Homo sapiens: one gene and its partners. The protein of the gene in region 5 interacts with the protein of the main gene of each other region in a biochemical or structural test. Each region holds a gene or a part of one and is shown on either strand. Other genes may lie near its edges.

Region 1 (3,500 bases), on a different chromosome or scaffold from region 5:
GGAGACTGCACACAGAGTCCCTACTGGGGTACTGCCTAGTGGAGCTGTGAGAAGAGGGTCACCATCCTCCAGACCCCAGAATGGTAGATCCACTGACAGCTTGCACTGTGCACCTGGAAAAGCTGCAGACACTCAATGCCAGCCTGTGAATGCAGCCAGGAGGGGGGATATATGCTGCAAAGCCATAGGAGTGGAACTGCCTAAGACCATGGGAACCCACCTCTTGCATCAGCATGACCTGGATGTGAGACACGGAGTCAAAGGATATCATTTTGGAGCTTTGAGATTTGACTGTCCCAGTGGATTTTGGAGTTGCATGGGGCCTGTAGCCTCTTTGTTTTGGTCAATGTTTCCCATTTGGAACAGCTGTGTCAATGCCTGTACCCCGAGTGTATCTAGGAAGTAACTAACTTGCTTTTGATTTTACAGACTCATAGGCAGAAGGGACTTGCCTTGTCTCAGATGAAACTTTTGACTGTGCACTTTCGAGTTAATTAGTTAAGACTTTTCGGGACTGTTGGGAAGGCATGATTGGTTTTGAAATGTGAGGACATGAGATTTGGGAGGGGCAAGGGGCAGAATAATATGGTTTGGTTGTGTTCTCACCCAAATCTCATCTTGAATTCCCAAGTGTTGTGCGAGGGACCCTGTGGGAAGTAACTGAATCCTGGGGGCAGGTCTCTCCCATGCCGTTCTTGTGATAGTGAATAAGTCTCATGAGATCTGATGGCTATTATAAGAGGGAGTTTTCCTACACAAGCTCTCTTTGCTTGCTGCCATCTGTATAAGACATGACTTGCTCCTCCTTGCCTTCTGTCATGATTGTGAGGCTTCCCCAGCCACGTGGAACTGTAAGTCCAATTAAACTTCTTTCTTTTGTAAATTGCTCAGTCTTGGCTATTTCTTTATCAGCAGTGTGAAAATGAACTAACACACTATGTGTATTTACAAAATAATCAAATTTATAGATAATTTCTTAAAGACACATTTGGTACATAAAGGTTTGCCTGTTCCCATAGGAAAGACTGACAGTTGGTTAAGGGAAGATTACCACGGATGCAGTTAAGGAAACAGTTGCTGCTATTTCATAGTAGGTGGTCCACTCTGATGTCATTGTAGCAGGGTTGAAATAAAACATTTCAACCACGTATTTTCTGAACACGCCTAAATAAGGTCTGGTCCAGCTCAGAACCACGGCCGTAGGACCCAAAGGATAGAGCATTAAATCCTTTATTCCTGTGGGAACTAGAAAGAAGAGGGCAGGGGGTAGAAAAAGAAAGTTAAGAAGGAATGTCTTAGCAATGGCCTCAAACTTCTACTTAATGACCCGAGTTTTCACTCTCTGATACAATACCTACCTCCCTCCCTCCCTTCCTTCCTTCCTTCCTTCCTTCCTCCCTTTCTTGCTTCCTCCCCTTCCTTCCTCCCTCCCCCTGCCCTCCCCCTTCCTTCTTCCCTCCCTCCCTCCTTTCATCTTTTCTTTTCTTTTTCTTTCTTTCTTTCTTTTCTTTCTTTCCTTTCTCTCTCTTTTTCTTTTTCTCTCTCTTTCTCACTCTCTTCTTTCTCACTCTCTTTCTCACTTTTTCTCCTTTCTCTCTTTCTTTCTTTCTCTCTCTCTCTCTTTCGTTCGTTCTTTCTTTCTTCTTTTCTTTCTTTTCTTTTTTTTTTTTTGAGACAGGGTCTTGCTATGTTACCAAGGCTAGATTAAAACTTCTGGGCTTGGCTGGGTGTGGTGGCTCATGCCTGTAATCCCAGCACTTTGGGAAGCCAAGGTGGGCAGATCACGAGGTCAGATCGAGACCATCCTGGCTAACACGGTGAAACCCCGTCTCTACTAAAAATACAAAAAATTAGCCAGGCATGGTGGCATGTACCTGTAGTCCCAGCTGCTCAGGAGGCTGAGGCAGGAGAATTGCTTGAACCTGGGAGGCAGAAGTTGCAGGGAACTGAGATTGCACCACTGCATTCCAACCTGGGTGACAGAGCGAGACTCTGTCTCCAAAAAAAAAAAAAAACAAAACAAAAAAAAAACCAGACAAACAAAACAAAAAAAACAAACAACTTCTGGGCTCAAGCAGTCCTCCCACCTCAGCCTCCCAAGTAGCTGGAACTGTAGGTGTGTGCCACGGCACACAGCTTTACTCTTGTTGTATAATCATTGAAAACTAAAGTAAGAATGTTTGCCTCTGATTTTTTCCCCAAGTAATAAATATTAAGAATGTTTTCCAAGTATACAATTCTTGTTATTTATTACTCTGAAGGTAGCATATTGGATGAACTAATATGGACCTTCCAAATACGATGATAATGATTTGAGCTCGCACATTGCACCCCTCCGTCAATACCCTAATATATAGGTCAGTCATTCTTCTTGTGGCTAGCAACTTACCAATAGCAAATGTCACAGGATCTGAAGGTGGTCCAATCAAAGGGCCTTTCCTTAGGTATATTACAACCTGGTACTGGGCACCAGGAACCAGATTTTCAATAATAGGTTTGCTTGAGTTCACCTTTAAACCAAACACCCAATAAGATTTATTTAGAGCTGGGATTTCAGAATGTTACACAGAGGCTGGTATAATATTCAGAGACTCTTTTTGGAATCACAGATGACTTTGAAATCCAGAAGGCTTTACTGAAGCTGTCAGATTCCAAAATTAGGATGATTTATAGTTTATGTGAACATTGAAGGGAACCTAGAAGATTCAAATTTTGTCTGTTCTAAGCCCTGTGAACTGCTTTATACCCATCAGTGTCAATTATAACTATGCACACTAGAGACACATCAGCCTCTAACCATAATCAAATCAGCAATACCATGAGGATAGTTTGACATTCTAAATTGTGGTGTCAGCTGATTACATACAAAGGTCAGTACGGAAATGTCTTTAGTCTCTTGTCACTTAGAAGCATATAATATCTAATTATAGAAATGAAAATGACCACCGGGAACAGTGGCTCACGCGTGTAATCCCAGCACTTTGGGAGGCCAAGGCAGGCAGATCATTTGAAGTCAGGAGTTCAAGACCAGCCTGACGAACATAGTGAAACCCTGTCTCTACTAAAATACAAAGAAAATTAGCCAGGCATGGTGGCAGGTGCCTGTAATCTCAGCTACTCAGGAGGCTGAGGTAGGAGAATTGCTTGAACCCAGGAGGCAGAGGTGCAGTGAGCCGAGTTTGTGCCACTGCACTCCAGCCTGGGCAACAGAGTGAGACAAGCTCTCAAAAAAACAAAAATAAAAAATAAATAAAATAAATAAATAAATAAATGGAAATGACCTTAGAGATTACCTAGTCCAAAGTGCTCATTTAATAAATAAAGTAAAGCCAGAGAATGGCCAAGGTCATATATTTAGATGCAGTGTTGGGACTGGAAGCCTAGTGTTGGGACCTTTAATCTACACTATGGGCAAGTCACTGTGCTAAGCATCGAGATATCCTGGTAAGCACCCTGCCAGGCTGTTGTAGCCCCCTAAAATAATATTGTAGAGAACATTT
Region 2 (2,770 bases), on a different chromosome or scaffold from region 5:
ACAGAATGGTAGGCCAAAGCTGCCAAGTTTGGGACTTGTATACCTGTTTGGAAATGTCAAAAGTTCTTGTTAAGTAGAAGCAATTGTACTGATCTTACACATATAGATTCTCCAGAACTCTTGCCAGGATATATCCTTCATCCTACCTCGTAAATATTAAGAGAGTTGTTACAAACCTAGTTGATACACTAGAGAAAATAGTAATTCTGTTCACAACTTAGCAGCAGAGTCATAAACTGAATAAAGTTTGATTCCTTAGATGAGCAGGTAAAACTGTCATTGTTTACTCTTTAAAGGAGAAAGAACGTTGATAAATCAACCCAGCAAAGACCATTCTTTTTGGTTTGCTGCCTGTGTAAAGACGACTACCAATGTTCATTTTACTACCATGAAAACTTAGACCAGAGGGTTGGTGGGTATTAATGTGATCTGTTAAGGGAGACTAGTAACCTATTTTATTGGATATAGACATTTTCATAGAAATGCTCAACACTACTGAATACATCAAAAACCATACTTTATTTTATGTATAGCAATACAATTTACATATTAAATAACACTATAATAGAATGATTTGATATAGTTTAAACAGAAGAAAAAGGGAAAAATTTCAGGTTACAAAACCCCTCCCCCTGAACAAATTTAAAAAAAAAAAAAAAGCACACTTTTTCCAAATGGGTCAATGTGACGAATGTTTTCAGTGACTAATTATGTCTAATTCCTATTGCACAAATGGTCAATGGAATTAAAAAGAAAACCCAACTTTCACAATCACTGCCTCAAAGAAATAACACATGTTGGATTCTTTTGGAATGTAAAGATGGTTTTTGCTACTTCAATACACAGAAAGTTGAATTCACATATCCACCACAAAAAGGAAAAAAAACTATGACGGAGTTGAAACTAGAAAAAAATTAGCTTTATATGAAAATATAAAATTCTATGATTATATACCATAGATACAAAGTTCCCAGAAGATGCTTACCCAAGCAACAAAATATTTACAGTTTTAATGATTTTTAGCTATTTCAAAATGGAGTGAAAGAAACATGAGTCAATGTGAAGCCAGAATTCTTTAGAAACAATGGCTGCTTGCTAGTTTCAAATGTCCTAACAAAAAAGGAGTCACTACCCCAAATGTTGGAGAGTTGCGACATTTTATAAAATCGACTTTCTCCTTTTCTGGAGATGTTTATTTCTTAAAACTCAAGATATTTTTCTTGAAATTAATTATCCTCTGTAGAAAATGCTTCCCTTTGCAAATATTTAACAAAAATACTAAAAACAGTTTAACAGCTAAGACAAAGTAGAGGCCAAATATCATTATTACAATTCCTTCCTATTTGTAGCATGCCTTCTTCTTTCTAGAGATAAGTAAAGCCAGTATTGTATGTTAAATGACAACTAAGGGAAAGCGCAAAGGGTTAAGTGAAATTACATCTGTTAAAAAAAAAAAAAAAGCAGGCATTTTCCCTTCATATAAAAATTCACTGGCACCATTTGAACATAAACTTTAGAACATAGGAGTTGAAAATGCATTTCCAGTATAACCACTAAATTCTTAAGACAAACTACATTTTGATTCTTAAATTATGATGAGTTGGGTTTTTTTTTTAGTTTTGCTTAGAATTAGTAATATGTATCTTTGGTAAATTGGTATCTATATTTTAATTTTAAATACAGTATATATGCATTTAAGAAAAATTCATAACAAGGCAGTTGTGCTGTGTCATTATAAAATAATTATTTACTGATTTCAGTATGTCACTCTGGGCTAAAAACTCCAACAACCAGAACTTGAACACCGTAACCCTTCTTTGGCCTCGCTGGACTCTTCTACTTGAATAGACTAAAAACTCTAAAGGCATAAAAATTAGGAAGACCAATTAGCTAATCTTACTCTTTTTGAAATTCAGAAATTAACTTTTTTCATATTAAAGAAGATATCTTGGCTATCGCATATAAGAAAGAGTTCTCCTGATGGCAACAGCATGTCTTTTCTTTGATGTCCAGCACAGCCACTTGGTCTGATCATTGCAATTTATTTTTATATGATGTGTGCATTTTGCTTACCTAGAGCTAAATTCATATACACAAACAGCTTATTTTATTAAGTTGCACACATTAATTTGCAATAGCTATTTCCTTTCCCCTGAGTGCAAGTGTTAATAACCTTGTTATGTACTTAAGCAATGTGCTTATGTCTCAAAGAAAACCCTGTCTTTGAAACTCTGCCTCTGGAAAGATGCAAGCTATGTTTTTGCCAATAACACATGAATAATAATAGTGAGGATATGCTGTCTCTTGCAGGGGTGAGGACCTGCTAAATATAACTGTCCTCATTGAAGTGTGTTTGGACTACTTTGGCAAGATGGGCAAGTAGCAATTGCTTATAATTCAGTGGGTCAGGATATGAAGACTTTGGTTCAAGCTCGCTGAAGACACACAGATTGCTCACAGGGAACTTCTAAACTCTTTCTTTTATTGTTTCTATCCTATTTACTAGCTGTTTTTTCGTGATTCTGAAACCACTGTAAGGGACAGCCACAGAATTGCATTGGAGGGTATGCCTTTCTACGAATTGAGCCCTCTATAAATAGCACAGGAGGGAATACTTGCTATTTGTCTTTGAACCAGTGTTTACTTTTATTAAGAAAAAATTACTGAGAAAGGGACCATGAACCCTAACTCGAACATTACTTTTGAACATCAAGCCCACTTTGCCATCTACTAAAAAGTGTTAACTCATATCAATACTCTATACATCTAA
Region 3 (3,500 bases), on a different chromosome or scaffold from region 5:
CTCTGGGGCTCCCTTGCCTTGATGCCCTTCCAGAAACAGCCCTTCTCGAGCTTCTCCTGCACACCCCTGAGATGATCTATTTCATCTGAGCTGCCCCCCTACCTGGCTGTATGCTCTGGATAGGGCATGCTGATCTGGGTTCAAGGTCTGACTCTGTGGGCCTTTGGGCAAATTACGTAACATCTAGAACCCTCGTTTTCTTTTCCTTCCTTTCCTTCCTTCTTTCTCTCTTTCTCTCTTTCTTTCTTTCTTAGATGAAGTCTTGCTCTGTCGCTCTGTCACCCAGGCTAGAGTGCAGTGGTGCGATCTTAGCTCACTGCAACCTCTGCCTCCCCGGCTCAAGTGATTCTCCTGCCTCAGCCTCCTGAGTAGCTGGGATTACAGGCGCCCACCACCACGCCCAGCTAAATTTTTGTATTTTTAGTAGAGACGGGGTTTCACCATGTTGGCCAGGCTGGTTTCGAACTCCTGACCTCAAGTGATCTGCCCGCCTTGGCCTCCCGAAGTGCTGGGATTACAGGCGTGAGTCACCACGCCCAGCCCTTATTTTCTTATCTGTGAAATGGGGATGATAACAGCAAAGTCTACTTCACAAGCTTGTAGTGAAGCATGAATGGGTGAGTGAGTGCTCAACAAATGCTGGACCTGGAAAGAGAAAACCTCTCCAAACTATTTGATTTAGGCTCTTTCACCCTCTCAAAGCAGGCTGCTATTTATCCAACATCCATTCTATGCCAGGCATTGCGCTAAGAGCCTTGCCCGGGCTATCTCTTTCGGTCTGCACAGCAATCCTATAAGTAGGTATGATGAGGAAACTGAGGCTCAGAGAGGTCAACATTCTCAAATTTTCACAGCTAGGAGGTGGAGATGTTGAGCGACTCCAGTGCACACAGTTTTAACCGTGACACTAAAATAATCCACCAACAAGGTAGGAGTGAACCCCATTTCTAATGAGAACAAACAGGTCCCCCACCTTGGCATTGCCTCTTTGGGGCCCAGACCCACCTCTCTGTGGGATGGTGAGTTTGCAGGGCAGGGCCAGGGCCATGATGGAATGCTGGCACACGAAGGCAGAGAGGCTCCCTGAAAGGAAGCAAGCAGCCCTGCATGAGTAGAGCTTCCCCAACCCACCCCTCAGCTCACAACGGAGACTTCGCTGGCCCCCCATCCCGGGGGAGCCTGGAGGCTGGGGAGTCTCACCAAAGTAGGGCTCCTCATCTGCTCCTTTGAGATGCACTCCTTTGGCAGACGACTCGATGAGGAAGTGTCGGATGAGGTCATTGCTGTCCTCACCTGGACAGAGAAGAAAGAGTGCATTCGGATAGAATTCCACCTTGTGGCCGGGCGCGGTGGCTCACGCCTGTAATCCCAGCACTTTGGGAGGCCGAGGTGGGCAGATCACTTGAGGTCAGGAGTTCGAGATCAGCCTGACCCACATGGTAAAACCCTATCTCTACTAAAGACACACACACACACACACACACACACACACACAGTCACACACACAAAGCCGGGCGTGGTTCACATGCCTGTAGTCCCAGCTACCCGGGAGGCTGAGGCAGGAGAATTGCTTGAACCTGGGAGGCAGAGGTTGCAGTGAGCCGAGATTGTGCTACTGCACTCCAGCCTGGGTGACACAGTGAGACTCTGTCTCACCGGAAAAAAAAAAAATTCCACCTTGTCCATCCCCCTGCCTCTCCCTCCCACAGAGGAGGTGCCAACACATCTGCTCAATGGCTCCAGCCACACCCTCTTCAGGAAACCTTTCTCTTCTTCTTTTTTTGGGGGTGGGGTGGGGAAACCTTTCTGCTGGTCAAGAGTTATCAGGGATTTTTTTTTTTTTTTAGACAGAGTCTTGCTCTGTCTCTTAGACTGGAGTGCAGCGGCATGATCTCGGCTTACTGCAGCCTCAACCTCCTGGGCTTAAGGAATCCTCCCACCTCAGCTTCCTGAGTAGCTGGGACTACAGGCGTGCCCCACCATGTCGGGCTAATTCTTTTGTAGAGACAAGGTCTCACTATTTTGCTCAGGCTGGTCTCGAACTCCTGAGCTCAAGCAGTTCTCCTGCTTCGGCCTAGGGATTATTTTATTTTATTTTTTTTAGACAGGGTCTCATTCTTTGGTCTAGGAAGGAGTGCAGTGGTGTGATCATGGCTCACTGCAGCCTCAAAGACCTCCTGGGTTCAAGTGATTCTGCTGCCTCAGGCTCCCAAGTACCTGGGACTACAGGTGTGCTCCACCACACCTGGGTAATTTTTGTAGCGACAGGGTTTTGCCATATTGCTCAAGCTGGTCTCAGATTCCTGGGCTCAAGTGATCCTCCTGCCTCGGCCTCCCAAAGTGCTGGGATTACTGGCGTGAGCCACTGTGCCTGGCAAGGAAACTTCTTAATTATTTAGATAAATGTCGACTCTTTGGTCTGGTTTCTGTCTCCCCCTGCCCACCAGGTCATCTCTGCTGGAGCCACGCTGGCCCCGGGGGTGGGGAGGTGAACAATGACCTTCTGACTCCTTTCCACCAGTCCACAGTGTCCTCCTCAGTCTGGGCTCATTGCCTCTTGCAAGGCGTCCTTTATAAGTAACACCCTCCCCAGAGGTCACTTTCTTATTGTGACAGTGAGGCATACTGTCAAGAACACAAGGCTGGGTGTTTCATCCTCCCTTTATCACTTAATTGCTCTGGAGTCATTAAGTAACTCTGGGAGCCTCCGTTATCTCATCCGTTAAATAAGAAGGTGCAATCCTGGGGTTTGAGTGAGGCCTATGACCCAGGTACCTTGTACTGTAATCATCTGTTTTCATCTGTCTCCCTAGTGAGGTGGTGTCTGTGTCTGATTCCACTGTATCCCTGCTGCCTCACACAGTGCCTGGTGTGTGGTGATGCTCCATAGATGTTTGCTATCAAATAAGCATGGGAGACCACAGGAAAGCATATAAGCTATCACACACATGTGCGCTGAGCTAGTACACAAACCTGGTAAGCTATCACCTGTGAGATAAGCTAGCTGCGTGTGTAATCACACATTAGGTTCCCTGGAAATGAATCCAGTTTGACTCCAAGAAGAGCAGCCTAGAGGGGGCTAGGACCCTCCTCCTTCTCTCCCACCATCAGAAAAAAGCAGGGAAGTGGGGGTGGGGCTCGGGAAGGCAGAAGCACGCAGGCTTGCTGTGAAAGGCGTTTTTCAGGGTGCCTTGGGGCTGGAGGGCATCGGGGAGAACACTGGGGTGGACGCTTCTCCTAGGAGCTGTTATAAGACTGGCGCCATGTCACCCTGAAAGCTAGTGCCAGAGCCAGGACTGGAACCTACCACACCCCGCTGCCTCAGTGAGGCCTTGAGTGAGCACAGAGACAGACGCATACCTGGTCGACTCTGAGCAGACGCGGGAACCTCCTGCACCTTCAGGGCCAGGCCGAAGGAGCCTCGGTATGAAGAGCTGTCCCTTATGACAAAAGCCCCTGGCTCCTCCTTCCTCAGCAGCTCGATTGCTGGAACAATCCTT
Region 4 (3,500 bases), on a different chromosome or scaffold from region 5:
AAATAAATGCAATGTAGGAAATTTAAGTTTGTTGGTAAAGGTGAGACATATTATCATCTACTCCTAGAACTCCTTAGCTTTATGGAGAGCTCAGCGTTTGAATTCAAGCAGAGATAAATGAGTGAGGCAGAGAAGAGGAGAGTTGAGGAAGTCAGTGGAATTATTGCAGACTTAAGATAAGGAAACAAATTAAGTGAAGACATATGCACTGCGCATGAAAGAAGAAACCCAGAGAGAATTTTCGGGAAAGAGAATGGGGCTTTGAAACCAATCAGAACTGGCTTACATCCCACCTCCGCCACTACACAGTGATGCGATTTGGGGGGAGATTTATTTTTAACTAATCTGAGCTTGATTTCTTCGTGAATAAAAAGGGAAATTGCCAAAATCTGCCTCATAGGATTGAGTGAAGGATTCAGGATGCATTGCATTTTAGGGCCTGCCTTAGTAAGTGGAAGCTAATATTATTTTCATGGAGAGCGGGGTCACCAGACCATAACTCAAGACCAGTGTTAGCCAATAACTTTCTAAAATTTGCAAACTAGTAAACTTGATAATTTCTTACTCTCTAAAAATGAACTCCACTTGGTGAGAACAGAAGATGAAATTCAAAAGACCAAATATTTGCTGATAGCTCAACTTAAGAATGAGTCAAGTTGAACAAAATGTACAAAAGCGTAAAATAGGAAACGAATCCACAAAGGGGAGGGACCCAGGCAGGCCTTACGGGACTTAGTCAAGAGAGGACGGGCCCTTTTGTAAACTGTCATTCTTTGGTGCTGCATGACCATTTCTTTTTAAATGCTGAGAACATTCTCAGTCACTCCCACTTATAACTGTCTAATAAAACTAGTCGTTTGTCACTTCCAGTGCCCTGCCCAGCCCTACAGAAAATACGTGATTATTTAAGGGTGAAGAAGCCAAAGCTGGGAGAGTTTTAGTCACCTATCTAGGGGAAAGTGTGAAGATTTCAAAGCCCAGGGTCCTTCACGGAGCCACACGGCTCTCCTTGGCACTTAATCTTCAAGCTCTCCTCAGCCCACACTTGACCCTTAACAGGGGAGACAAAGGCAGACTCCAGGTAAGTTGTCAGGGTTAGCATAAGCAGCTCAGGGCAACTGGTGGGTAGGGAGCTGTACAGCCCAGGGATTGCAGCCTCTTGTTTTGCATTTCCTGGAGTCATGGCTAAACTCATGGTCTCCTCAGGGGTCAAAGCAGGCCTGACTTTCAGTGTCATCTTCAGGACACACACACGCACGCGCGCACACACACACACACACACACACACACACACACACACACACAGGATTATACATGCAACTAACCAATCACACAGAGCTGGACCATCTAGCCTGGTAGAAGGTCTGCCGAGTTCTGCGGGTCACCATGAACCAGGCTTGTGAGCCCTCTTAGTCATATGTAAAGGGCTGTGTTTGAGACCCGGTAGCCCACAAAGCTCTTTTCTGCCCAAGCCTTGGTTTTTCCGTATGTTAGTGGGGACAGATTGGAACTAAACAGACCTTGAGTCTTTTCAGGGTCAGTCTCAACTCTCTTAGATGCTAGAGGGATATAGGCAGGGCTAGCACAGAACAGAAGCAAGAAATAGTCAAAATGAATATTTTGGACTGCATAGACTCAGAATGTGCTTTACTTGGGCACCCAGGGCTTCTCAGACTTCAGTTGTTTTCATTCCACCATTCCCTTCCTCCCCCTCCTCATCACCAGCAGCAGCAGCAGCAGCAGCAGCAGCAGCAGCAGCAGCAGCAGCAGGGCGCACAGCTCTGGGGGGAATCAGGCACTGGGCTGTGGTGGTACCGAGGTTACCCCTGAAGTCCTCACGCCTCCCTGTGAGGTTGATAGATTGAAACTACCTTATTTTGAGTATGAGGAAATAGAGGCACAGTGAGGTCCAGAGACCGCCCAAGAGCACACACCTAGGAAGCTGAGTGCCAGGTTTCAAAACCAGGTCTCCCTGGGCAGGGCAGGGCATGGCTGTGTTTGAACCACTCAGGTCTCCTTTGACATAGTTGACAGCACTAGTTACTTGATAATGTCTTTTTAAAAATTAATTTACTTAAAAAAACTTGAGTGCTATTCTAAGCAATGTGACATCGTGGATTTCTTGGGCTAGTTATATATTTTATGATGTTCATCAATGTACAATTATGTAAAAGTTGAATGATCAAGTTCTGCCTAAGACCATCTCATGTACCAGCAGCGAGGTTAGATTCAAATAGAAAAAAGGGATCTGGTCCAAGATTTGACACGGATTCACTGTCTGTGGGACCCCTTGCTAGGGCACTTGATCATCTGGGTCATTAAATCTGGGGGCCAGGCACATTCTCATTCATTCGAGACGAGCCCATCCTCTTCCAGAGCATGGGGGCTTCTTGAAACCCTGTCCTTTCCAGGCACACACTGAGGTGGGGAGAGGGACCCTGGAGTCAGACCACCTGGCTTTGAATCCCAGCTGTCTCCTCTGAGCTGTATGGCCTAAGGCAAGTCATTTAAGCTTCTTGTACCTCAGATTCTCCAACTGCAAAACGGAGATGATAATAGGCAGAAGCCTCGTGGGGCTGTGAGAATCGAGTCTGCATATGTAAAGCACTGGGCACTGTGTCTGGAGGCTGTGAGCACCAAGCGGCTCTAATCATTCCCGTTTTACAAAGGAGGACAGAGAGACTAAGGAGATAAACTCTTTCTCATCTCTCGTTGTGTGTCAGTGCAGGGGCAGGACTAAAAGCTGGTCTGTGGTCTGCAAGCTTTAGGGGTTACAGAGTCCCCAGGAACTCCTAGGAAATTCAGCTGGCGGCTACCTTCCACCATCCCCAGGTTCTGATTCGTGGGCCTGGGGTGGGACCCAGGAATCTGCATTTCAGTTACTTCCCAGGGGATTCTGATGCAGGTGGTGCGAAGACCACTTACTGAGAAGCTGCAAGCTGGGTTTGAGAGGTCCCTACCTCCTTCTTCCTTCCCCGAGCCCCACCCGCCCCCTTCTTTCCACTGGGCAACTATGTAAACAGCATTATTTCTACCCTTGCACGGACAGAAAGGGGTCTGTGCTGCTGCCTCTGTTGGTGCCTCTTCAGGTCAGGGTGATAAGAAGAGAAGGAACAAAGAGGGGAAAAAGATCACAGCAGAGAGACAGAGTGCTCATTTTAAGGTGGAAATATGCCATTTCCTGACCACAGCGGGACTTCCCTAGGTTGTATTAAAAAATCCTGTACTGCCCATGTCTGGTACAGAAGTATGTATAGAATTGTAGAGAAAATGAACACTTTGGGATGATTTGAAAGCAAATTACAGAACTACCAGTTTCACCACTTTAAAACTTTTGGGGAATGGCCATTTAGATATAACCTGGTGCAGTCAGGTAACCCCAAACAGAGTTTTTAAAAGTTTCCACACCCTTCTTTGCTGGTGCCTGCCCTGCATCATGCTGTCGCTGTGAGGAGGGACTTGTTCCAGATCTCTGGGGCAGCCCGAGTGACTCACCTAAA
Region 5 (3,500 bases):
CGCAGGAACAGAAAACCAAATATCACATGTTCTCACTTACAAGTGAGAGCTAAACATGGACATAAAGATGGCAACAACAGACACTGGGTACTACCAGAGAGGGGAAGGAGGCAGGTGGAAAGGGTTGAAAAACTAACGATTGGGTGCTATGTTCAGTTCCTGAGTGACAGGATCATTCATACCCTAAATCTCAGCATCGCACAATATACACAGGTAACAAACCTGCACATGCACCCCCCTAAAACTAAAATAAAAATTGAAATACAAAAGAATAAAAATTTTAAAAAGTGCATGTTAATTTTTAATCACATTCAGAAACTTTAAAAGATCTCTTGAAAAAATGTTTAGAGCAAATCCATCACTGTGCCAAAAGAGTCACCCAGGGAAACTCTCAGGATTAGTCTTCTGTATGCTCCCCACACAATATTAAGGATCTAAGCTTGAAGGTACTTTAACCAAAGTGGTGTATAAAAACACCATACAAAACCTTGCACTGGCTTAACAAAAAAAAGTCAGTATAGTAACTAATGTTCAGACTGTTGCAGAAAGGCGTGAATGGACAAGGCCAAACATAACAACATAAAGACAGCATGTGGGGCTCACACAGCTGCTGCATCATGCTAGACAGAGACTAGACAGAGATGGGGGCCTTAGATAAGTTTAGCGATTTAATATACTAGATTTATGTCATGACATAAAGAGAAGCTATAACAGATAAATTTCCCAAACTTTACAAAACTCCCTTTCCATCAGAAATATAAAATTTTCAATTGAAGAGGTCAAAATATAATTTGTCCTGTATTTCCAGTGACTCATCTGCTTTCCCAATATTTAATACAGTATGCTTAAAATACGTTTCTCTTAATACACACAAAACTTGGCTCAAAACAAACACTACAGTGACAGAAATAGTATGATGAAAATATCACTATCATGAATTGAGTGACAGGCAAAGGGTCTAAGATAATTATGTTTAAGTGTTCAGAACATCTATGTATTTCTGCAGTTTCAATTACTCATAAGTATTTGAAAAGCTCATCTGTATGCAAACTACAGCAGCTGACATCTATAATTGGGGCTATAAACAAGACTAGAATGTTACTGGTTTCTTATAGATCCTTCCAAAGACAATCTCAAAAACCAGACATATAGGGCAATGAACTAGTTATATGGAGCTCTGAAACTAATCAAGCCATATTTTATAGAATTAGATTTGCTTATAATGAGTTTTATATAAGAGATACTGAATAATAGATTAAGTCATTTATCTGATGTCATGAAATTTGAAATTAAAATAGATTCATCTGATGCTATGAATACTGAGAAAAATTATAGGACCAAACGAGACATTATTTTTGTTTAAGTGTTTGTGGATAAACTTTGCTTTGAGATCTGAATTTGGATTTTAAAATGTGTTTTTCTTGAAGTTATAACTTTGTAAAGTGAGTTTATGAAGTCATAACTTTGTAAAGTGAGTTTACAAAGTCTGCCTTGTAATGTTAAATACATTCTCAAGCCTCCTCTCCTGTATCATAACTATTTAAAAAGTAGAATAGTACAGGCCGGGCACAGTGGCTCACGCCTGTAATCCCAGCACTTTGGAAGGCCGAGGCAGGTAGATCCCGAGGTCAGGAGGTCGAGACCATCCTGGCTAACACGGTGAAACCCCGTCTCTACTAAAAATACAAAAAATTAGCTGGGCGTGGTGGCAGGTGCCTGTAGTCCCAGCTACTCGGGAAGCTGAGGCAGGAGAATGGCGTGAACCCCAGAGGCGGAGCTTGCAGTGAGCCGAGATCGCGCCACTGCACTCCAGCCTGGGCAACAGAGCGAGACTCTGTCTCAAAAAAAAAAAAAAAAAAAAGTAAAATAGTACTAAAGAAAAGTAAATTTTTTTTGAATACTATGACTTCAGGAACCTCTTTACTGTTTTGCTAAGTCTATTCTTGATTCTGGCAAAAACTATATGGGTATTTCAATCTGGGTGCTCTTTTTAAGTTCATTTTGTATCTAAGCAAATATGCCAAATAAATAATGTGGCCAACGAACTCACAATTGTCTCTGAACAGTTCAGTTAAATTTTAAAAGAATGAACACAATCTCCAGAAATAAGAACCTACTTTATTCTGTTCTATTAAGTTCTTTTACGTTAAAGAACTAGTGTGATTAGTCTCTAGTGTACTAGAATAATAGTACTTTCACTAAATACATAGGGATGTATAATTATAAAATATGTAGTATACATGATACATAGTATATATTCTGATATATACATAAAATATATATCATAATAATGTGGGATACATGAGTGATATCAGACCTAGAGGATACTAAAAGCTAATCATTAATTGATCTTAGGTCTTTTCTAACTTATAAACAGTGGTGTTTCCTGATTTCATATTATGCTTACCACATGGAATCACAACTGTTGAAATATACTGGAGTTTTCAAACTGTGCTCTACAGAGCTCAAGGGGAGAAAAGAGCAGCAGAGGAGCAAGGGAGGTAGGACTTAAAAGCTTTGTAACCTCACCCAAATCTTACTCCCTCCACATTTATGCGAGACCTCAAAATATAAAACTGTTAGGTTTGGAGTTAAAAAGTAGAGATCTGCCACTAACATGCACTCGTTACTGGAAAATAAGGAAAGCACCAGTTTAACATTAAAAAAGATATTTCAATATTTCAAAGAGTTCATGACACTTATATCTCAATCCTTCAGTGATCTGTATGAACCAATTATAAAGCTATACATGTCCAAACATATTTTTGCATATTATATGCAAAGAAAATGACTAGTAGTTGTCTAAAATAGATTTAGAGACAAAGAAAAAGGAAACAAAAGGAAGCATTATCCGATAGAAAGCCTCTGATGCTCACATCCTTTCTGAGATCCACACCGCAATCACAGCCCTGCTGCCAGGGCAGACTGGGTCGTCGTGGGTGTGACACACATAGACCAATCACATCATCTCTAAGCAATCTAAAGTGAGTAAATAATAAGTAAGGCAATGAGAAGCTGATGCAGAAGCTGCAAGGGCACATAAAAAGCAGCTAGGAGGCAGAACTGAGGCCATAGAAGGGGAGCATTGGAGGCCAAAGCTCTTGGAAAGCAGAATCCATTTAAGTAGAGGATACAGAGTAAGAAAACAAAAAAGAATCAGAAAAGAAAACAGAAAAGAAGGGAAGAATGTGAAAGAGAACAAACCAGATGCAAAGATTTCCCATAAAACAGAAATGCACAGAGAGAGCAGGACACAGCAACAGTCCCCTAGAATTGCTTCAGTTCCTGATAACCTCCTTGTTGAAGGAGGTTAACCTCCTGTTGAAACGAGGAGGTTATCCTTACTTACAAACAAAACCAAATCTTTTTTCTTAAGATAGTCTGAGCCTCAGTCTCTTTTCCTCACAACTAGGACTTAATTAGAACTAATATTAATGATCTAAGCCCAGGTTAAGGAGAAATTGATGCCAACATTATGTGGTCTTAAAAAGCTACATATA
Region 6 (3,205 bases), on a different chromosome or scaffold from region 5:
GCCCTCTCACCTGAGCGTCTCCACTCGGTCTTTGCTTTCAGGTTCATTCAGGTTCCTCAAAAAACAGAGCGAGGGAGAGTTTAGTGCTGGGATCTCTCGCTCCTTCCGCCGCCACAGACCCAGATGAGAGTGGGTCTGGGGAGGTGCCACCAGTGGGTGGGCAGGACCCAAGCCCAGGGCCCTCTGCCCATCACCTGGCAAGCCAACAGGGCTCTGCAGCACCTCACACTGGCGGCTCAACCATTCCTTTCCAGCAGGGAGCCCAGCACATGGGGCTTGTCCCTCCCCACATTCCCAGATCTGTGCCGGGGAGAAGGAGCCTCTGCTCTGGGGGAGGAGGGGGAGTGGCTGTGCACGCACTTCACTGAGCACACTGAGCACACGGCCCGGCACGAGGCTGCTCCCCCACAGCCAGGGCTCACGCGCTGTTCTGGGGGTTGCAGGTGTGAGTGCGTTTTTGGAGCCACACGCTAGGGTCTCAGGACTGCAGTCCTTTTGGAGGAAAGGGGCTGCAATGCTTTGAATCTCTGTAGGAGGAGGGGCCGTGGCTACGCAAGGGCCTGTCAGGAGACTCAAAGTGCCAAGGCCTGGGTCTGCATGGTAGGCACCTGGGGATGGCTTCCTGCTGCTGAGTGGAAAAGGCGGCCTCCTCCGACCTTTCCCAACTCCCCTACCTGCTGGCCTGCCAGGCCATCTGCTCATACGCAGGGAGGATGAGGGTGGGGTGGGGCAGGGCAGGGCAGACACCTTGGTTGGGTGGGTGGGGAAGAGGTCTGGCCCCGCTGAGCGGCTTCTCCAGCTCCTGGCTGGAAGATGGGTGTCTGGAGCTAGGAAACTGGGGATTGCAGAGGAGGAAGGATATGAGAGGAAGGAGGAAGAGCAGCAGCACATAGAAATAAACAGGAAGACACAACCAACACAGGGGTGCACACAAGCGCACTGCGAGCAGGGAGCCCGGCTGTGCGAGGAAGGCACCCTCCCTGCTCTCTCCAGACCCCCTGTGGGGCAGCCCCCTGCTGGGGCCCCTTGAGGCAGCAGCCAGTCATGCAGTCAACAGCTGGGTGGGAGGAGGAGGGGATAGGGAAAGCCTGAAGACCCTGTCTGGACGTTCCTCCATCAGCTGTGGCACCAATGTGCCTGCCAGGCATCCCAGTCCCAATGCAGGGCCTGAGCAGACAGCCTTGGGGAACAAGCACTCTTAACCTGGCCCTTGGTCTTCAGCTTGGTATTTGGTCCCCGAGGCCTGCAGAGAGGATGAGCATAAGGCCAGGGGTGAAAGAGCCAGGAAGGGGACTGTGAAGGGAGACCCCTGAGTAAGGGTGCAGAGATCTCCTGTTGTTTTGCTACGGCTTGGGGTAGAATGGCCGTTGCCCTAGAATGTCCCAGCTCCCCGCACTTTGGAAGAGACAGGCCATATCTGGAGAAAACAGCCTAGAGGAGAAGAGGCTTGATTTATCCAGATGCTGCTGGTGGCAGGGGTGCTGGGGCAGGGGTGCGGGTGGGTGGGGCTAGTTCTGCAGGAGCTGCCAGGAGGGGGTGCTGTGCTCCATTTGTGAGACAAAAGCTCCTAAGGTCTGGGGGAGCCAGACTGAAACCTTGGGGCCCCAGGGTCCCCGTAGTGTCTCCAAAGTCCTGCGATCCCATAGGCCACGGGGAAGAGGTCACATAGCTCTGAAGTTCAGGAAACCCAGGAGACAACAAACAAGATACCATCCCAGATGCACTTGTAACCCTGGAGCTTCCTCATAGCGCATGCACATGACAAGGGAAAGGGCAGGAAAGGATCCCAACACTTGTGACCAAAACCTGGGGTGAGAGGGAGTGGGGGTGGGGTGGGGTGGGTGAGAGGAGACAATCTTAAAGGGAGGCTTCCCTGAGACAGTCTCCCCTTACTTGAGGACAGGCGTTAACTGTGGGCCCAAGGAAGGCCCTCATTTTTAAAGCCATTTGCCCTGAGTGGGCCAATGTGGCCTCTTAGCCCTGCCTGTTTGTACTGGGGGCACGGAGGGCAGGCCTTGTGCTGATGCCCAATCAGAGGCAGTCTTCATCCCTTTAAGATGGCAGAGAGAGGAGGGCCACACAGACTTGGTTAAGCAGATGGAGGAGAGTAAGAGCCAGAAAAGGGGAGTTAGTGATGGAGGCAGGACACAGGACACAGACACACACACACACACACACACACAGCGGGCTCAACGCCTACCTTCTGGCAAACCTGAAAGACAGATTTCTAAAAAAACAAACAAAAAAAAGACAAAATAAAAAAAGAAATAAAAAAAAAACCAACAAGACGGTATGTGGATAAGCAGGTGGGGGAGGTGGCTTTACAGGTTCAAGGGTCATCCCATTTTCGGAAGAGCCGCTCAGCGAGACTAGAGTCCCAGGCTTTCAGACCTGCCCACACTCTCTGCAGGCCTCACACTTGCATTCTGGGGCTCGGATGGGGCAGTGGCTTTGGCTCCTCCAGCAGAGTGGAGTGAAACGTAGAGGAAGGGCAGGCGAGCCTGTTCTCTCAAAGCCCCTGCTGCTTCCTGAGCTGCTACTCCAAGGCAGGGAGAGGAATGGCAGGATGGGGATGCGGAGCATCCCAGGAGGCCAGCCAGTTGGCTGGATGCACTTCAAGCTGCACCTCTGTGGTGGCTGGGGGCTCAGGTGTGAGAAACCCCGTGAAGAGATCCCCACCCTGGGTCCAACACAGGAAACCTTTGGCACATCGGAGTTAGGTTAGGGAAGAGGCCACTGTAGGCCCTCGCCAGTGATTTCATTTATAGGTTTCACCCTAAAACCCCCGGGCAGAAGGGCATGGCTGCGCCTGCAGCCAGAAACAGAACCAACTAGTGGGAGAGGCAGTCAAAGGGGCAAGAGACCAGGACAAAATTTTCCTTGCTGGCCCCAGCCTGGCTCATGCCTCATGACTTTGCAGCTGCGTCACCAAATATAAGTTTCCATGGGAACCCAGGAGAGAAGGGGGGGCTTTTATTTTAGCATCTGAGTTCACACTCTCCTAGAGAGGAGGCGGCATCGGCCATCTGCTTGGGGCCAGAGAATGAGGGGTGCCTGTGAGGAGTTGGGGAGAGGCCTAAGAGGGGTGGGCCTGGGCACATAAGGTGTTGACAAAGACCTAATTTCTTGTGCTTCCTGAAGCCTCTTCTAACCCCAGGACCCAATACCGGTACAGAGTGTCCCAAACCCCAACCCCCAACCCCCA
Region 7 (3,500 bases), on a different chromosome or scaffold from region 5:
TAAGGATCATGCTTCTGTGACTTTGTGGAGCACATGCAGATTGAGGGCCTGCTGTGTGCCAGGTGCTGTGTGAGGGCTCGGCACACAGATCAGCTAGGCAGGCTCTGGGAGCCCACGGGCAGCCAAAGAGTGGCTTTCTCTCCCTGGCTGGGAGAGAGGTGGTGCCGAGAGCCGTGGGGACCTGGGTGTAGCCATGATGAGTGCCTGGAAGGGTCTGGGAAGAGTTTTCAGAGAGTGACCTAGGGTGGCAAGAGACGGGAGGGGAGAGTGGACTCTGATCTTGGGTGTCATTTGCATGGCTGTGGGTGAGACTCCCTCTGATGTTCTCTTCTCCCAAGTTGGGTTACCAGTTGCCCAAGACTAAAGACACTCACTGAAACTATTGGCTTCCCGACTTGCAGAGGGTTGTATGTGCAGTGGGTAAGGGCAGGTTGGGGCCAGACTGCCTGGGTTCCTTGGCTGACTGTGCCCCTTGCCAGCTGTGACCTGGGCAAGGTACTTACATCCCCCGAATCCTACTTTTCCTGTATAATTGTTTGCTCTTTTTATCACTAGGAATAGCCCTATGGAGTTGGCTTTTCTCTGCCTGATGGGCTGAAGTGCTGGATAGAGCCAGCTCTGGGTGTCCTGTGAGCCTATGGGCCCTGTCTAGGTCACCCAGAGCCAGCTTGTGAGTCTGGAGACTTTGGTGCTAGTGTTCACTGCCACTAATTATCCATGTGTCCTGGCGCACGGCTCCACCTCTCTGGGCTGAGGAGATAGGTTAGATCAGGGGTCAGCACACTGTGGCAGCTGGTCAGATCCTGTCCACTGACTATTTTGGTAAAGAAAGTTTGATTGCAACCCAACCATGCCCATTCACTGTCCTGTTGTCTATGTAAGCTGTCACACCACAACAGCAGAGTTGTGTAGTTGCAACAGTGACAGCCTTACCCACCAGCCTAAGATATTTACTATTAAGTCTTTACAAAAAAGTGTACTGGGCCTGGTCAGGGGATATCTGCATTGTCTTCTAGTTCCAGCAGAGCCTCGTGCTTGGGTGGCACAGAATCCATGCCTTTGGTATGAATTTGGCCTGGGCCTTCTGCGAGGAGGTGGGTGGCCTGGGCTGGTTGAGGGAGGATTTCGAGGAGGCCTTGCTGGCACTGCCTACATGGATTCCAGCTTTGGGTGCCGAGGTGCCTGGTTCTACATCACCTTGTGCCTGCTACCTAGAATAGACCTCCCGTGCCTGCCTCTTTGCAGACAAACTGCCCCAGCCTTGTCCACTGTCTTGCTGTTGGGTGGAGGGGGTTCTGTATGGGGACAAAAGACAGACGGGCAGGCTGTGGCTGGAGCTGTGTGCAGACTCCATTGCAGCCTCTGGGTCCTGCTCTGTAAAGGGTCCTGTGCTGAGGGACCATCCTCTTCCGGGGTCTAGAGAGGCCTCTGGCCTGGGTGTAGGATGTCAGACCTGAGGGCCACCCCAGAAGCCACTCCACGGAGGCCATGCCCCTATGCAGCAAAGGCTGGAAGCACCCTGCTAGCACCCTGGTGACTAGGCTCCTTCCAAATTAAGGTTTTCTTTGGGCTAAGGGGAGGAAGGTTGCATTTCAGCTAGCTGGACCCCAGGCCTGTCACCCATGAGGGACCTGGAGGAGGGACCTGGAGGACCTGACTATTTTGGTAAAGAAAGTTTGATGGCAACCCAGCCATGCCCATACACTGTCCTATTGTCTATGTAAGCTCTCACACCACAACAGCAGAGTTGTATAGTTGCAACAGTGACAGCCTGACCCAACAGCCTAAGATATTTACTATTAAGTCTTTACAAAAAAGTGTACTGGCCCTGGTTAGGGGATCTCTGCATTGTCTTCTGGAGGAGACCTGGAGGAGGGGGCTCTTCTCCAACTCTGACCATTGCAGTCTTGGCCAGCAGGGGCTGCAGGGGCCTGGCCTCCTGAGGGATGCACAGACTCTGGTTCTTCAGTTTCTCAGGCTGATTTCAGTGGATGCCTTAGTTGTGGGCAGTATGGCTCTGTACTCAGGCCAGGTTCCTCCTGGGTAAGACAGGGACAGGGTGGGATTTGGAGGTGGTAGGAATGACATTCCTCCCGGATCATGGCCCGGGGTAAACAAGAGCGTTCTGTTGCTTCTTCCTCTTTCAAGCGGAGTTCGTTTGGGAGCTGGCCTCAGAGGCCGTAGAGGAGTTGGGCAGGTGCCGGTCTGGGAGTCGGGCCATCTGGGGACCTAGTCATTTCCCTTGTCGGGCCTCAGCATCCATCCTTATCTGTAAAATGGCCTTTTCTAGCGTGTGTCCCCCACCCCCTCTTAGGCTGTTTTGAACACCAGGTAGTGCCGTGTATAATGAGGTCCTCTGTAAACTAAACTGCTCAGTGCTACAGGAATGCCAGAGGTGGGCGATGGAATGTTGAGTTCCGCCTGGGAATGGGGTTCCCTGATGCCAGTCTCTAGAGGAATGCTGAGTGTGTCAGGCAGAGAGGGGTGGGTGTGTCTTGGCATCAAAGGGGCTGGTGAGTCTACAGCAGCCCCACAGGGCAAGACTCACCAGTGCAGGCCTGTTGCTAGGTGGCCAAGGCTGTTTCTGGATTCTGGGCAGGGGGTGGAGCTCACATGAACTCTGGCACTATCCTGGGATACAGGCAAGGCAGGGATGGACCTCTGGGCCCACTGTAGGGCCCCAGACTCTAGTGGCACGAGGAGAACCTGGAAGGGCCTGGGTGCTGAGCAAGATCATTGAAGAAAGAGAGCAGCCAAAGGGGGTGCCAGCTATGGACAGCCTCCTAGTCCTTGGAGGGAAGAGTCTCTGATGGCCATGTTCTGAGGCGGGGCCTGGGATCCATTTCAGGGCCCCCTCCTCTGAGCAAGGCCCTGGTGAAAGGTCACTGCAGGGCAGGGTGGGTCTGGGCAGGCAGGAGCCCTGCCTGTCCTTTGGGGGCTATTCCTATGTTCCCAGGCAGGAGTCCAGGAAGCTGTGTTCCAGGGGAGGTTGGGGGGGACCTGCACTGCACCCCTGTGCATCTGTGCTCAGTGTCTCTGTCCTCTTGCCCCTTCCAGAGCCCCGGAGCTATGTGGAGTCTGTGGCACGGACAGCGGTGGCTGGACCCCGAGCTCAGGACTCTGAGCCCAAGAGCTTTAGTGCTCCAGCCACCCAGGCCTATGGCCATGAGATACCCCTGAGGAACGGGACCCTGGGTGGCTCCTTTGTCTCCCCCAGCCCCCTCTCCACCAGCAGCCCCATCCTCAGTGCTGACAGGTAAGCCGGGAAGGGGCAGTGGGTGGGGGATGGGAATCCGGGCCTGGGACTGGGACGGGATGGGTGAGGCCTCCTGGATCTGTTGCCTATGGCGTGGACAGGCAGAAAGCATACCCAGATGGCGGTACCTTGCAAACCAGTTCATCAAGGTGCATTGAGGGCACATGTCCTGCGCGCTGAATCCTGTGGGGAGCCCAGTGACCTATAATTCCCAGGCCGCATTCAATTCCGCCCATCCAAAACT

The links.
Region 1: of the proteins of GAB1 (region 5) and PTPRO, one has a biochemical effect on the other in vitro, tested with the Homo sapiens proteins (one large-scale study listed by IntAct).
Region 2: of the proteins of GAB1 (region 5) and PTPRG, one has a biochemical effect on the other in vitro, tested with the Homo sapiens proteins (one large-scale study listed by IntAct).
Region 3: the proteins of GAB1 (region 5) and TNS4 form a complex in vitro, tested with the Homo sapiens proteins (one large-scale study listed by BioGRID and IntAct).
Region 4: the proteins of GAB1 (region 5) and SLA form a complex in vitro, tested with the Homo sapiens proteins (one large-scale study listed by BioGRID and IntAct).
Region 6: the proteins of GAB1 (region 5) and MARK2 form a complex in vitro, tested with the Homo sapiens proteins (one study listed by BioGRID).
Region 7: the proteins of GAB1 (region 5) and TNS1 form a complex in vitro, tested with the Homo sapiens proteins (one large-scale study listed by BioGRID and IntAct).

The regions. Positions count from the first base shown.
Region 1 is NC_000012.12:15,514,508-15,518,007, reverse strand, and holds part of PTPRO (receptor-type tyrosine-protein phosphatase O isoform a precursor), read right to left. Parts: intron 2,511-3,500; coding exon 2,390-2,510; intron 1,246-2,389; coding exon 1,052-1,245; intron 1-1,051.
Region 2 is NC_000003.12:62,295,340-62,298,109, reverse strand, and holds the end of PTPRG (receptor-type tyrosine-protein phosphatase gamma isoform 1 precursor), read right to left. Parts: 3' UTR 501-2,770; downstream 1-500.
Region 3 is NC_000017.11:40,481,124-40,484,623, forward strand, and holds part of TNS4 (tensin-4 precursor), read right to left. Parts: intron 3,487-3,500; coding exon 3,361-3,486; intron 1,294-3,360; coding exon 1,201-1,293; intron 1,084-1,200; coding exon 1,006-1,083; coding exon of another isoform or gene 974-1,005; intron 1-973. UniProt on the Homo sapiens protein: Promotes EGF-induced cell migration by displacing tensin TNS3 from the cytoplasmic tail of integrin ITGB1 which results in dissociation of TNS3 from focal adhesions, disassembly of actin stress fibers and initiation of cell migration.
Region 4 is NC_000008.11:133,054,103-133,057,602, forward strand, and holds part of SLA (src-like-adapter), read right to left. Parts: exon of another isoform or gene 857-3,500; intron 1-856. UniProt on the Homo sapiens protein: Adapter protein, which negatively regulates T-cell receptor (TCR) signaling. Inhibits T-cell antigen-receptor induced activation of nuclear factor of activated T-cells. Involved in the negative regulation of positive selection and mitosis of T-cells.
Region 5 is NC_000004.12:143,441,376-143,444,875, reverse strand, and holds part of GAB1 (GRB2-associated-binding protein 1), read right to left. Parts: intron 1-3,500. UniProt on the Homo sapiens protein: Adapter protein that plays a role in intracellular signaling cascades triggered by activated receptor-type kinases. Plays a role in FGFR1 signaling. Probably involved in signaling by the epidermal growth factor receptor (EGFR) and the insulin receptor (INSR).
Region 6 is NC_000011.10:63,905,110-63,908,314, reverse strand, and holds part of MARK2 (serine/threonine-protein kinase MARK2), read right to left. Parts: intron 2,228-3,205; coding exon 2,201-2,227; intron 56-2,200; coding exon 11-55; intron 1-10. UniProt on the Homo sapiens protein: Serine/threonine-protein kinase. Involved in cell polarity and microtubule dynamics regulation. Phosphorylates CRTC2/TORC2, DCX, HDAC7, KIF13B, MAP2, MAP4 and RAB11FIP2. Phosphorylates the microtubule-associated protein MAPT/TAU.
Region 7 is NC_000002.12:217,821,496-217,824,995, reverse strand, and holds part of TNS1 (tensin-1), read left to right. Parts: intron 1-3,057; coding exon 3,058-3,256; intron 3,257-3,500.